4 linked regions of the Homo sapiens genome follow. The protein of the gene in region 4 purifies or fractionates together with the protein of the main gene of each other region. This does not show direct contact. Each region holds a gene or a part of one and is shown on either strand. Other genes may lie near its edges.

The links. Proteins that work in one complex are often made in the same cells at the same time.
Region 1: the proteins of ADK (region 4) and NQO1 fractionate together in Homo sapiens (co-fractionation; one large-scale study listed by BioGRID). This does not show direct contact.
Region 2: the proteins of ADK (region 4) and AIF1L fractionate together in Homo sapiens (co-fractionation; one large-scale study listed by BioGRID). This does not show direct contact.
Region 3: the proteins of ADK (region 4) and NNMT fractionate together in Homo sapiens (co-fractionation; one large-scale study listed by BioGRID). This does not show direct contact.

Annotation. Positions count from the first base shown.
Region 1 is NC_000016.10:69,716,561-69,720,060, forward strand, and holds part of NQO1 (NAD(P)H dehydrogenase [quinone] 1), read right to left. Parts: intron 1,975-3,500; coding exon 1,810-1,974; intron 1,694-1,809; coding exon 1,563-1,693; intron 1-1,562. UniProt on the Homo sapiens protein: Flavin-containing quinone reductase that catalyzes two-electron reduction of quinones to hydroquinones using either NADH or NADPH as electron donors.
Region 2 is NC_000009.12:131,113,531-131,117,030, reverse strand, and holds part of AIF1L (allograft inflammatory factor 1-like), read right to left. Parts: intron 2,455-3,500; coding exon 2,413-2,454; intron 1-2,412. UniProt on the Homo sapiens protein: Actin-binding protein that promotes actin bundling. May neither bind calcium nor depend on calcium for function.
Region 3 is NC_000011.10:114,299,399-114,302,898, reverse strand, and holds part of NNMT (nicotinamide N-methyltransferase), read right to left. Parts: intron 1-3,500. UniProt on the Homo sapiens protein: Catalyzes the N-methylation of nicotinamide using the universal methyl donor S-adenosyl-L-methionine to form N1-methylnicotinamide and S-adenosyl-L-homocysteine, a predominant nicotinamide/vitamin B3 clearance pathway.
Region 4 is NC_000010.11:74,154,221-74,158,340, reverse strand, and holds part of ADK (adenosine kinase), read right to left. Parts: intron 1-4,120. UniProt on the Homo sapiens protein: Catalyzes the phosphorylation of the purine nucleoside adenosine at the 5' position in an ATP-dependent manner. Serves as a potential regulator of concentrations of extracellular adenosine and intracellular adenine nucleotides.

The DNA of each region.
Region 1 (3,500 bases), on a different chromosome or scaffold from region 4:
AAGGTTCATCAGGGACTTCCCATGAGAAAGTCTTGTCTGACCTCTTATCCTAATAAAAGCAGAGTAAGGACTATACCAGGAGGTTTTCTTATCCTTGATTCATGATTTAAAGATATGAAAGGCACATGCCTATAATCCCAGCCTTTTGGGAGGTCCAGGCAGGCAGATCACTTGAGCCCAAGAGTTTGAGACCAGCCTGGGCAACATGGTGAGACCCTATTTGTACAAAAAAATTAAAAAATTAGCAGGGCATGGTGGTGTGCACTGATAGTCCCAGCTATTCGGGAGACTGAGGTGGGAGGATCATTTGAGCCCAGGAGGTTGAGGCAGCAGTGAGCAGAGATCATGCCACTGCACTCCATCCTGGGTGACCGTGAGACCTTGTCTCCAATTTAATTTTTTTTTAAAGCCGTCCTTTGGGGTACTGGCTAGTGGCATGTGGCTTTGATTCTTAGCAACAGGCCTGTGGGTAAAATAAAGGACTTCAAGGATTGGATGTTTTGTAGCTGATTGAATAACTAAAAAAAAAAAAGAGAGAGAGAGAGAAAAAAAAAACACAGCCTGTACCACCCTCCTCGTGGTTTCCAGGATCATATACATTCTATGTTCAATATCAAAAGACTGGCTGGAATTGTAAAAGCAAAGTCATTGAGTACAGTCACATTTATAGGAAAGATCACTGACGAGATGCACGCACAATCCCAGCATTGTCTGCTAAACGGTAAGGCAGCTTCCCGAAGAAGAAAGGCCGTGGTTTGCTGCAGGAACACATTCAGCAGGGTTTCAAAGCCCCCTTCAGCTGGCAGGCTACAATGGCAGAGAAGTCAATGTCTCATGGATTATTCTACAAAGTATTTGGGATTCTTATGGAGAAAGGAGGAGAACTGCAAATTTTGAGAGAGTCCAACAGGAATCGCTAACCGCAGGATTCGCTAACTGAAGGAATCGCTAACTGAAGGAATCGCTAACTGAAGGGGAGACTAAGTACCTGGAAGAAAGCAAGCTCAAGGACTGTACATCATCTCTGCAGCTGCATTTCTTTCTTTCTTTTTTTTTTTTTTTTGAGACAGAATCTCGCTCTGTCGCCATGTCACCAGGATGGGGTGCAGTGGCGCAATCTTGGTTCACTTCAACCTCCACCTCCCGGGTTCAAGTGATTCTCCTGCCTCAGCCTCCAGAGTAGCTGGGACTACAGGCACATGCCACCACGCCCAGCTAATTTTTGTACTTTTAGTAAAGACAGGGTTTCACCATGTTGGTCAGGATGGTCTTGGTCTCTTGACCTTGTGATTCACCTGCCTTGGCCTCCCAAAGTGCTGGGATTACAGGCGTGAGCCACCGTGCCTGGCCTTGCAGTTGCATTTACACATGCAACAGTAATACAGCCAGATTCCCAATATCTGTGAAATCCATGTAATACTGCACCTTTAAAGTAATCACCCTTATTTGCAGAGAATGCAGTAAAGTGGGTAACTGTTTAAGATCTCATAGCTAATTAGGTACATGTCTAGGACAATAAGCACGCAAATGTCCCTGACACCCCTTCCGATGTCCCCCCATACCTGGAATATCACAAGGTCTGCGGCTTCCAGCTTCTTTTGTTCAGCCACAATATCTGGGCTCAGATGGCCTTCTTTATAAGCCAGAACAGACTCGGCAGGATACTGAAAGTTCGCAGGGTCCTTCAGTTTACCTGCAGAGAAGAAAAAGAGAGGCTGGGGCCAGAGGGGCCAAAGCTGGGCCAGAGGACCCACAGGCAAGGAGATCCGCAAAGAACTAATTAAAGAGGGGAGGAGGAACTCCTCCTACCTGTGATGTCCTTTCTGGAAATGATGGGATTGAAGTTCATGGCATAGAGGTCCGACTCCACCACCTCCCATCCTTTCTTCTTCAAAGCCGCTGCAGCAGCCTCCTTCATGGCATAGTTGAAGGACGTCCTCTCTGAGTGAGCCAGTACGATCAGTGCTCTTCTGCCTACAGAGACACACACAAAGCACACACGGAAAACCCATTACCAACCAGCAAACCTTCAGCTACAGGGGAGTTGCAGTCTGTAAAGGAGGGGGCGGCTTTGTTTGACATTAGGTTATTGCATTCCATCTCCTGTAGCCAGAAATGTATTTTCCCCTTAAAAGCACTGAAGATTAAAGGAAGCATTTAAATCAGTGGCTGATTTAATAAATAATGTTGACAACTGGGCTCTGTGGCTCATAACTGTAATCCCAGCACTTTGGGAGGCCAAGGTGGGCAGATCACCTGAGGTCAGGAGTTTGAGACCAGCCTGGCCAACATGGTGAAACCCTGTCTCTACTAAAAATACAAAAATTAGCTGGGTGTGGTGGCAGGCACCTGTAATCCCAGCTACTTGGGAGGCTGAGGCAGGAGAATCACTTGAACTCGGGAGGGGGAGGTTGCAGTGAGCCAAGATTGCACCATTGCACTCCAGCCTGGGTGACAATGGGAGACTCCGTCTCAAAAAAAAAAAAAGATGCTCTGCGTGACCTGTCAGGAAAAGCAAAATTAAAATGAGACATTTACCCATTCGTTTACATGGGTACTGTGTTTACATTTACCGTGAGTTTACATTTACCCACAAAATGTAAAACAAATAACACCCAGGGTTATTAAGATTGTACCAACAGAAAAATTGGCACCTTACTGGTGGGGATAAGAACTGCCTCAACCTTTAGGGAAAGTAATGAGGCAGAATCTCTTGAAACTTTAAAGACACATAAATCTTTTATCTCGCTCTCCAATTTGGGGGAATCTGTTCTACAGACTAAAAGCTTCAGGCTATAAGAGCAAAGATGTGTATTACACCATGCTTTTCACTGGCAAAAATTAGATATAACCTGATTGTCTATGGGGAACATTTTAAGAAATTATGGGTACATCCACACTACAGGATATTTTGCTGTTAACAAGAATGAGTTGGCCAGGCACGGTGGTTCGAGCCTGTAATCCCAGCACTTTGGGAGGCTGAGGCGGGCAGGTCACGAGGTCAAGAGATCAAGACCATCCTGGCCAACATGGTGAAACCCTGTCTCTACAAAAATACAAAAATTAGCTGGGTGTGGTAGCGGGCACCTGTAATCCCAGCTATTCGGGAGCCTGAGGCAGGAGAATCGCTTGAACCCAGGAAGCAGAGGTTGCAGTGAGCTGAGATCTTGCCACTGCACTCCAGCCTGGGTGACAGAGTAAGACCCTGTCTCAGAAAAATAAATAAATTAAGATAAAAGTAAAAAATATATAAAAAAGAATGAGTTAAACTGGCTGGGCACAGTGGCTGGAGCCTGTAATCCAGCTACTTGGAAGGCTGAGGCGGCAAGATCCCTTGAGGCCAGGAGATGGAGACCAGCATGGGCAGCATAGTGACACCTTGTCATAAAAAAAAATTTTTAGAGACTGTTGACCAGGTACGGTTGCTCACGCTTCTAATTCCAGCACTTTGGGAGGCCAAGGCGGGAACATTGCTTGAGCCCAGGAGTTCAAGACCAGCC
Region 2 (3,500 bases), on a different chromosome or scaffold from region 4:
TTGTTCTCCAGTGAACAATGGGTCATCTAAGGATGGCAGGAGAGGGCTGGGGTAGGGGCCATGGGCCGTGGCGCAGCCAATGCTCCTCCTGGCAAGGCGGGCGGGACTGGGGCCAGGCCCAAAGGTGCCAGGATGTCCACGCATTCAGAGAGAGCTGGGCAGCCTTCTCCAGGAAAGGGGGAAAGGGCTGCACACGCACTGCCAGACTCTGAAGTTGGCAGGACCTTTCTCGGGCAGTTCGGCAAGATGCTTCAAAAGCCTTTGACCCAGTGTCCCCTTCCTGAGATTTCCTCTACAGAAATAACCAGGGAGGTGAACAAGCACTCATGTACAAAGAGGTTCTTTACAGGATTATCAATAATAGTTAAAATTGGAAGGCATCCAAATGGTCCACACAAAGGCATCGGCTAAACAAATTAGAATCCATTCCTACAATGCAGCCATTAACTATATTTCAAAAGAAAAATCAGCTGGCGCCATGGCTCATGCCTGTAATCCCAGCACTTTGGGACGACGAGGCAGGCGGATCACTTGAGGCCAGGAGTTTGAGTCCAGCCTGGCCAACATGGTGAAACCTCGTCTCTACTAAAAATACGAAAATTAGCCGGGCGTGGTGGTGCGTGCCTGTAATCTCAGCTACTTGGGAGGCTGAGGCAGGAGAACCGCTTGAACCTGGGAGGCTGAGGATGCAGTGAGCCAAGATTGTGCCACTGCACTCCAGCCTGGGCAACAGAATGAGACTATGTCTCAAAAAAAGAAAGAAAAATCAATAATAAATCAAAATACTCACCATTGTTTTATTTCACTTATTTTTTCTGGCCGGGCTGACCAATAGAAAGTTATTTTTTTCAAGGAGGCTCAAAAATGATATAAAACAGCTTTTGTGATTAGAATAAAGAGTGGAAGGCTAGAAACGGAAATGTTTGTAGCAGTTACTTCTGGGAGGTGGGGTTGTGGGTGATGCATTTTTGTCTTTTTGTCTTGCTGTGTTTCCCCAATTTTTTTAATGATGAAAATGTGTTTATTTGATAAGCCAAATTTTTTTTTTTTTTTTTTGAGACGAAGTCTTGCTCTTGTCCCCTAGGCTGGAGTGCAATGGTGCAATCTGGGCTCACTGCAACCTCCACCTCCTGGGTTAAAGCAATTCTCCTGCCTCAGCCTCCCGAGTAGCTGGGATTACAGGCATCTGCCACCATGCCCGGCTAATTTTTGCATTTTTAGTAAAGATGGGGTTTCACCATGTTGCCCAGGCTGGTCTCGAACTCCTGATCTCATGTGATCCGCCCGCCTTGGCCTCCCAAAGTGCTGGGATTACAGGCGTGAGACACTGTGCCTGGCCAAATTTTCTTTCTAAAGAAAAAAAAAAATGATCAAAATATTCTAAAGGGAGAAGAAAAGAGAGAGGACAGAGGAAGAGGAGTAGAAATGCCGGTAGCAGCATCAATCTGAGACGCAGGATGAAATGGAAAAGGGGGAAACTGTTCAGAAACCAACGGCTGGGCCCTGGTTCACTGCCAGTGTTCCATGTAAGCAAGTCATTTCACCTTTCTTTTTGCTTTTTTTTTTTTTTTTTTTTTTTTTGAGACAGAATCTCGCTCTGTCACCCAGGCTGGAGTGCAGTGGCACAATCTTGGCTCACTGCAACCTCCGCCTCCTGGGTTCAAGCAGTTCTCCTGCCTCAGCCTCCCGAGTAGCTGGGATTACAGGCACCCGCCACCACACCCAGCTAATTTTTGTATTTTTAGTAGAGATGGGATTTCGTCATGTTGGCCAGGCTGGTCTTGAACTCCTGACCTCAGGTGATCCCCACGCCTTGGCCTCCCAAAGTGCTGGGATTACAGGCTTGAGCCATGGCGCCCGGCCCATTTCACCTTTCTGAGTCTTGCTTTCCTCATCTGTAAAATGGGGATAATTAAACCAGCCTTAACCACTTCTTTGCGGGTGAGGTCCAGGTATGGTCTCCTACCAGAACGTAAGTGCCAGTAGCTGCACAGCAGGATGCAATAAGGAGAGAATCAACGTATATAAAAGCAACTTGTCAACTGCCGAATGACATACAATGGAAAGACAGACTTCAGGGCCACTGAAATGCCAGCCAGGAGGCCCAGGGCCTGTCCACCCTGAGTGTCTCCAGCCCTGGGCAGGTGTGGCACCCTCTGTCCTGAGTCCCCGTAGCACCTGGGGTGGGAGGCTGAGGTGTGGGTGGGGAGGGAAGCAGTAGGGGATCAAAGGGTCTGGAGGAGTCTGAGGGCAGTGGTGCCAGGGCAGAAGGCAAGGGGCTGGGGCTGGCTCGGCGCAACATATTCACCAGCCTTCCGGACTGCCCCATGCCCCTCACCCGCACAGAGGGTCCCTCAAGCCCTCTACCCACTTAACACCCTCCTCCCTAAACACACTCAAGGCTTCACTCACCAATCTCGCCTTCATTGTTCAGGTCAAACTCCATGTACTTCTCTGGAAATCACAGAGCAAAAACTAGCATTAGTTTGGAAGCAGCGTCTCCCTGTGGGGACCCAGTGGCTCCCTTGTGGGCAAATGACCGTGTCCTCAGGAGTCTGAACCACCTCCCGCACCCTACCAAGGGTCTTGACCTGAGTCCCCCATCCGCTGAGCCATGGCCTCTGGGGAAAGAGCTCATCCTGCCTGGACTACTCTCCTAGAGGTGCCACGAGGGAAAGATGGCTGGGGGCCACTCTGACCCTCTTACCAGGAGGGCAGCTGCTTTCTCCCGGGTCCCCAGCAGCACAGACCAGCTGCATCTGAGTTAGTAGCAAAGTGACTAGCTCTGATTCCCTGCCCCAGGATTCTGGCTCATGGGTGTGGAAGGACAGGGTGGGGGCAGGCATGGGTGTGCTTTTTAGCGTCCCAGGCAGTTCTGATGGGCAACCGGGTGTGGGAACCACTGATTCAGGGGACCTGTGATTCTGAAACCAGGAAAAAGGCCTGCCCTAGCCCACAAAGTGGACATACAGTTTCCCGGGGTACACAGACCATCACCCCAAACCTCACACACAGACTGAGTTATACTTCCCTGATCAAGGAGTCCAGGAAAACTTCTAGCAGTGAGGGAGGATGTCGGAGCAGTGGGCTTGGTATGTTCAGATGGGAGCAGTGTGTCAAACGGACCGTGGGGCCTCTGCAGGTCACCCCCTGCCCGGGCAGAGTGGGGCCCTCATGGTCCATCCTGCCCCACAAGCAGCCAGCAGAGAAAGCCGAGGCCCTCCTGCAGGCTGTGCTGCCCCCGCCCACTCCCTGCCTGCTCCAGCTCGCTGCCCCTCTGCCTGGAATGTTCTCCCAAGTATTCTCAGCACCCTTCCTCATGGCTTCAGGGCTCCCCACCCTTTCTTTTTCTTCTTTTTTTTAGAAGGAGTCTTGCTCCATCTCACTTTGTCACACAAGCTGAAGTGTAGTGGCGTGATCTCAGGGGGGATACACAGCTCACCTAGGGCAGAGTTGGGACTTGAACCCATGTTAGTCTGGCTCCAAAGCCCCCGTTCTTA
Region 3 (3,500 bases), on a different chromosome or scaffold from region 4:
TGGCAGAAGGAGAGCTAGAGAGCTCTATGGGGTTCCTTTTATAAGGGCACTAATCCCATTCATGAAGTCTCCACCTCCATGACCTAATGACCTTTCAAAGCCCCGACCTCTTAATACCATCATAAGGGGGTTAGGATTTCAACACAGAAATTGGGAGGGAGGGATAAAAACATTCAGTCCAAAATTCCTATGTTTAATATATATTGTTATATACATTGTTTAAAACTGTATACTGACTTATGTGACTATACTTAACACTATTCAACTAACACTTAAACATAGTAAAGATGGTAAATTTTATTTTAAAAATCAAAATTAAAAATAAGACAATAAAAATAAATAAAATCACTACTAACTAAAGCAAAACTAATAACAATATATGTATTATAGTGTTATACATAGAAATAAAATACATGACAAGAACATAAGGGCCAGGAAAGTCGGTTAAGGAAATTACACTTTTGGAATATCTTACATCCTTCATGAGACAATAGATATGTCAAGGATGCATATTGCAATTCCTAGAAAAACCACACAAACTCACACAAGACACAGAAGAGGTTAACAGGGGAGATAAAAAATAAATACTAAAAATATGTACACTTATACTAAATGGAATACTAAAAATTACTGCATTCACCAAGGGAAAACAGGAAGAAAGACACAGGTGAACAACAATCAGATGGGACAGATAGAAATCATATACCAAGATGGTAGATTTAAATTCAACCCTGTAATATTAGTAATTACATTAAATGTAAATGGACTAAACAATCCAGTTAGAGGCAGAAATTGTCAGTCTGGATTAAAAAGAGAAAACATAATCTGAAAACAGAAGGGTAGAAAAAGATATGTAGATATATCATGTATATTAGTTATATGTAACTGCAGGATAAATTATCCCCAAAATTTAGCAGCTAAAAATGACAAACACTTATTTCTCTGTTTTTTCTGGTTCAACTGGGGGAAATTTGGTTCCAAGCTCACTCCCCAGGACAAGAGAGTGAGATAGAGACAGAATACCCAATAAAAAGCTGTCATTTTTTAAAAATTGATTTTGTTTTTTACAGCAATATTAGGTTCACCGCAAAATCAAGCAGAAGGCCTACATTGGCATACCATTATCACCCAAAGTCTGTAATCTACGTTAAGATTCACTCTTGGTATTGTACATTCCATGGATTTGGACAAATATATAATGACATGTGTCCACCATTATAGTACTGTACAGAGTAGTCTCACTGCTCTAAAAAATCCTCTATACTCCACCTATTTATCTCTCCCTCCCCGACCCCTAGCAACCACTTATCTTCTTTACTTCTTCCCTAGTTTTGCATTTTCCAGAATGTCATATAGTTGGAATCATACATGTAGCCTTTTAAGATTGGCTTCTTTCAATTAGTAATTGTATTTACATTTCCTCCATGTCTTTTCGTGGCTTGATAGCTCATTTCTTTTTAGCACTGGATATTATTCCATTGTCTAAATGTACCACAGTTTATTTATTCATTCGCTTACTGAAAGACATCTTGGTTGCTTCCAATTTTTGGCAATTATGAATATAGCTACTATAAACATCTGTGTGCAGCTTTTTGTGTAGACATACCACAGCTTTTTGGGTTACATACTGAGGAGTGTAATACATGCAGCTTTCTGGGTTACATACCAAGGAGTGCAACTGCTAGATTGAATAGTTTTGCAAGGAATAGTCGAATTGTCTTCCAAAATGGCTACACCATTTTTAATTCCCACGAACAATAAATAAGAGTTCCTCTTTCCCCACAGCCTCATCAGCATTTGGTGTTGTCAGTCTTCCAGATTCTGGCCTAGATCTAATAGGTGTGTAGTGGTGCTGTAGTCCTTTTAATTTAATATCACAATTGATATCCCATCACTATGCTGCATTCTACCAAACTTGTCAGTACTGAATCACTAAATCCAGTGGATATTCTAGGGAAGGGGATTACACAAAGGTGAAAATACTGACACAAGGATTATTGGGGGCCATCTTAGAGGCTGCCCACCACACCATGCAAAACAGCAAGCATAGGAAGGGTGATGTAGCTATATTAACATCAGAAAAAGTAGACTTCAAGACAAATACATTGCTGGAAATAAAGGGAGATATTTCACAATGGTAAAGTGGTCAGTTCATCAAGAAGACATAACAATCCTAAAAATGTATATAACAGAGCTAAAAACAAGTGTCAAAATGCATATAGCAAATGTTGACAGAACTATAGGGAGCAAAGGATAAATCAACAATCATAGTTTGAGACATTAACACTCTCAGTAATTGACAGAGAAAGTAAACAAAACGTCAGTAAGGATGTAGAAAATTTGAATGATACTATCAACCTGCCTGACTTAATTGATATTTATAGAAACTATATCTACAACTGAACAATATACACTCTTTTCAATGTAGAAAGCACATAGAACGTTTACTGAGATAGACCATATGCAGAGCCACAAAATAAATCTCTGACTACAACAAAATTTAATTTGAAAGCAATAACAATAAGATAGCTAGAAAAATCCCAATACTTTGGAAATTAAGCAACATAATTCTAAATAATTCATGGTCAAAAAAGAAATTACAAAGGAAATGAGACAATATGCTGAATTTGAAAATAATAAAAATACCACATACAAGAATCATGGGATGCAGTTAAAACAGTGCTAAAGGAAATTTGCAGCATTAAATGCCTACATTAGAAAAAGAGATATGTGAAATAAATGATATAAGTTTCCAACTTAAGAAGCTAAAAGAAGAATTAAAAACAAGACATTTTAGAAAGCTAGAAAAAAATAAAGTAAACTAGAAAAGAATTAAAATTAAAATAACTAGAAGAAAGAAAGTGATCAAAAATAAGAGCAGAAAGCAATGAAATAGAAAATGGACAGACAATAGAGAAAAATCAACATAGCCAAAAGTTGGTTTTTGGAAAAGATTAATAAAATGATCAATCTGTAGCAAGGTTGATCAAGACAACAGAAAGAAAACAAGACAAATTACCAATATCAAGAATGAAAGAGGAGAGATCACTACAGATCCTACAGACATAATAAGGTATTAAAAGGATATTGTAAAAAAAAAAAAATGCCAATAAAGTTGACAACCAAGATAAAAAGGACAAACTTCTTGAAAAGTACCACTTACCAAAACAGACAAAAGAACAAACGGAAAATCCAAGTAACCATTAAAGAAATACTGTTTTTAATAAAGTCTTCTCTCGCACAAAAATTTCAGATTCACCTGGCTTCGCTGGTAAATGCTATCAATCATTTAAGAAGGAAATTATACTAATAATACTCAAACTCTTTCAGAAAATAGAAGAGGGGATATCACTCCCAACTCATTTTATGACTCCAGCCAGCATCATGCTGATATCAAAATTTGTGAAGCACACTAGAAGAAAATTATAGCTCAATTATACTTCATGACCAAGTAGTTTATGCCACTTTGGTGTAACATTCAAAATTTTCCAATGTAATTC
Region 4 (4,120 bases):
TATTTGGTATCCCAGAGGTCCATTCTGTAAAGATAATATTTAGCCACACAGCACTTGGCCACTTATATATTCAGTGTACTTCAAGTCTCTCCAACTTAAAAGCAAGATTCCTAATATGTTCAGTGTAGAAACATTGGAAAATACAAGTTTTTTTTTAAACCTCATAATTCTTCCACCTAAAGATGCCCACTATTAAATTTGGAGTGTCTAAATTTTCAGTCTTTCTATAATAGATACATTAATATAATTAGCAAGAAAATCTCTGAAGTTTTAGTTTATATTTTTGTTTCCATCTTACTAGATACATATAATGCCCTTTCAAGCTGAGAACTGGTCTTTCTTAAATTTTGGTAAATTCTCAGCCATCAGCTCTTCCAACCTGGCTTCTCCACCATTCACATTATTTCCTCTTTTTGGAACTCCCAGTTAGATGTAAGTTGGTGCCTCTCAATTTATGGAGTTGCGCTGTTGCCCAGGCTGGAGTGCAATGGCACGATCTCGGCTCACCCCAACCTCCACTTCCCGGGTTCAAGAGATTCTCCTGCCTCAGCCTCCTGAGTAGCTGGGATTATAGGCATGGACCACCACATCCAGCTAATTTTGTATTTTTTTTTTTTTTTTTTTAGTAAAGATGGAGTTTCTCCATGTTGGTCAGGCTGGTCTCAAATTCCCAACCTCAGGTGATCTGCCCGCCTTGGCCTCCCAAAGTACTGGAATTACCGGCATGAGCCATCACGCCCAGCTCATATTTGTTAATTCCTATTTATTTCTCTGTGATACATCTGGGTACTTTCTTCCAATTCATTAATTTTCCCTTCAAATTTGTCTGGTCTAGAGTTCAACTGACCTATTTTTTTTTTAATTTCAATAATTCCATTTTTTCTTTAATATAGCCATCTATTTCATATCTACCTATTTTTGATTCATGTTTTTTTATGACCATTATTTCTTTTATCTTTTTTAAGGATCTTTAAAATACTTACAATTGTTTTGAAATTACCCATATTTCCATCAGATTTTTTGTGAATTTATCTCTTGGTAACTGTGTTAATTTTCTAAGTAATGGTCTTCCTCGTGTGTTTATAGGCTCAGACATTCCCTCTTTTCCCAGGGGTTCTGTGATAGGCCACCCCTCTTCCAGAGTCCACGACCTCCAAGCTTGGTGCTCTTGTACTAGCTGATAGTGGGGAAACCACAGTTCCTGACTCTGAGCCATCTGGCAGCTCAGCCACTTCTGCATCTTCACTCCAGGTCCACAGCTTTTTAAAGCAACAGCCAAGAGCAGATGTTTTCAGCCCTCTTTCATCCAGTCTCAGCCCAGCTTCAGTTTCATACAGAGCATCTGACCCTAGGTCCCCTACATGTTATTTCTACTAGCTCCTGAACCCAGAGTCTAACTGCATGTTTCTTTTCTGTTCTTGGTCCCTGGAGATGTTTATCTTGTTCTTGAGTATATCTATATCTTTTCCTTTCCTTTTTAAATTTTTAATTGCTGCGTTTCCCTCTCAACATCCTTATGAGGTTCGTACTATTACTATACCCATTTTACAGGTGAGAAAAGAGGTATGGGGCAAGTAGCCAATCTTCCCGAGATCACTAGCTAATAAGGATCAAGGGTCAAACCAGATAGCTGATGCCAGAGACCATGCTCTTAACCACTGCTCTACTGGGATCCATTCTGACCAGAATGCTCTTTAAAATTTTGATACTTTTTTTCCCCCACCTAACTGTAAACACTTTGGACACAGGAAAGATATTTTGTTTTCTTTTTTTGAGACAGAGTCTTGCTGTTACCCAGGCTGGAATGTAGTAGTGCCAGTGCCTCAGCTTCCAGAGTGGTTGGGACAACAGGAACCTGCTGCCATGCCTGGCTAAGTTTATTTTTGTAGAGCTAGGGTCTCACTATGTTGCCCAGGCCAGTCTAGAACTCCTGGCCTCAAGCAATCCTCCCACCTTGGCCTCCCAAAGTGCTGGGATTACAGGCATGAGCCACACCATGTGGCCAGGATTTTAATTGATGGAAGTAAAGCAAAGACATATTCCAGGTAAAAAAAAGCAGCACATCAGCCTCATGTTTTATTTGAGGCTGAATATTCAGTCTAGGCCTGTACCCAAAATAAGAAACATAGTCTTCAATGCCCCTTGTTTTCCTAAGGCCCTTCCCACTTTCCCTGAGTTTCAAGCACTTCCATGCTTGTCCCTGGATACCCAGAACCATCCATGCAAGCTTTCCTCTGGCTCTCTCTACCACCCTCACGCTGCACTAGTATATATTGCCCAGGAAAGGATCTTATTAAGGCATTCATACTAAGTGCATTAGGGGACTTTTGTTTTCCATTCCTTCATAGCCCAAAGCCTTAATCTTAAAGGATTAAATTTGCGAATATAAGTAAAAGGCATGCAATATCATCCAAAAATAACCAAACTCTTTCAATAGTAGATTATCATGATGAAAAAAGAAAATAGTAGCAAAGCTCAATTTTAGGCTGCATTATTAAAAGTATAGGGTCGCCGGGCACGGTGGCTCACCCCTGTAATCCAGCACTTTGGGAGGCTGAGGCGGGTGGATCACGAGGTCAGGCGATCAAGACCATCCCGGCTAACACGTCTCTACTAAACCCCGTCTCTATTAAAAATACAAAAAATTGGCCGGGCGTGATGGCAGGCGCCTGTAGTCCCAGCTACTCAGAGGCTGAGGCAGGAGAATGGCATGAACCCGGGAAGCGGAGCTTGCAGTGAGCCGAGACTGTGCCACTGCACTCCAGCCTGGGCGACAGAGCGAGACTCTGTCTCAAAAACAAAAACAAACAAACAAAAAAATATATATATAGGGTCTAGAAAAATGAAAGTTATCAGTGCCACTCTATGCAACAAACATTAATTAAGGCCAGGCTTGGTGGCTCACACGTGTAATCCCAGCACTTTGGGAAGCCAAGGAATCCTCCTGCCTCAGCCTCCTGTGTAGCTGGGACCACAGGCTTATGCCACCATGTCCAGCTAGTTTTTGTTTCGTTTTTTTTAAAGATTCGAGGGTCTCATTTTGTTGCCCAGACTGGTCTCGAACTTCTGGGTTCAAGCAAACCTCCCACCTTGGCCTCCCAAAGTGCTGGAATGTAGGTGTGAGCCACCATGCCCAGCTCCTAGGTTTAATTTTAGAACACAGGGTCCATAGTGAGGTAGGAGATAGAGGAAAATAATAAAAGGGGTCCATGGAAGTGAAACAGTTAGGAAGCAATATTTGAGAAAAGCTCAGCATTTGCTGATTAGAGAACTGTAGTTTGTTTCCTTTTTAGTACTATTAAAAGTCATGATCCTTAATAATCCTTAATTGCTAATGTCAGATGGAGTAATGATATGGGCTTTCAGGATTCAACGTTTCCTAACATCAACTTCAGAGTTTACAAATATTTGCCGTGATGAATAAGTAGAGCTGTGCCTAAAGAAAAGTAGGCAGAACTTGAGGCTGAAGGTAAAGAGACTGCTTAGGAAGTCAAAACAAAATCTAAGCAAAAGATAAAGTCTAAACGTAAGGTGTGGCAGCAGGAATGGAAAAGGAAAGACATTATAATGTGGATGTAAAATGAATCAAATATCTAGGTCTCAAACTTTGGAGTAAAGGAGGTTACTGGTGCCATTAACAGATGCAGGAAATATGGAAAAATGCACAGATTCAGGATAACAGATAATTTAGTTTGGTATATATGACTTCGAAATGTCAGAAAGTCACTCAGAAGCACATACTCAGCAGACAGTAAAAATTAAGGTCTGGGAAGGCAGGGCACGGTGGCTCACACCTGTAATCCCAACACTTTGGGAGGCTGAGGCAGGTGGATCGCTTGAGGTCAGAAGTTCAAGACCAGCCTAGCCAACATGGCAAAATCCCGTCTCTACTAAAAATACAAAAATTAGCCAGGCATAGTGGTGTACGCCTGTAATCCCAGCTACTTGGGAGGCGGAGGCAGCAGAATTGCTTGAACCCAGGAGGCAGAGGTTGCAGTGAGCCGAGATGGTGCCACTGCACTCCAACCTGTGCGCCAGAGTGAGACTCCAACTCAAAAATATATACAAAATTAAATTAAATTAAGATCTGAGAACTGAGAGGCACAGAGATAGAAAGGAC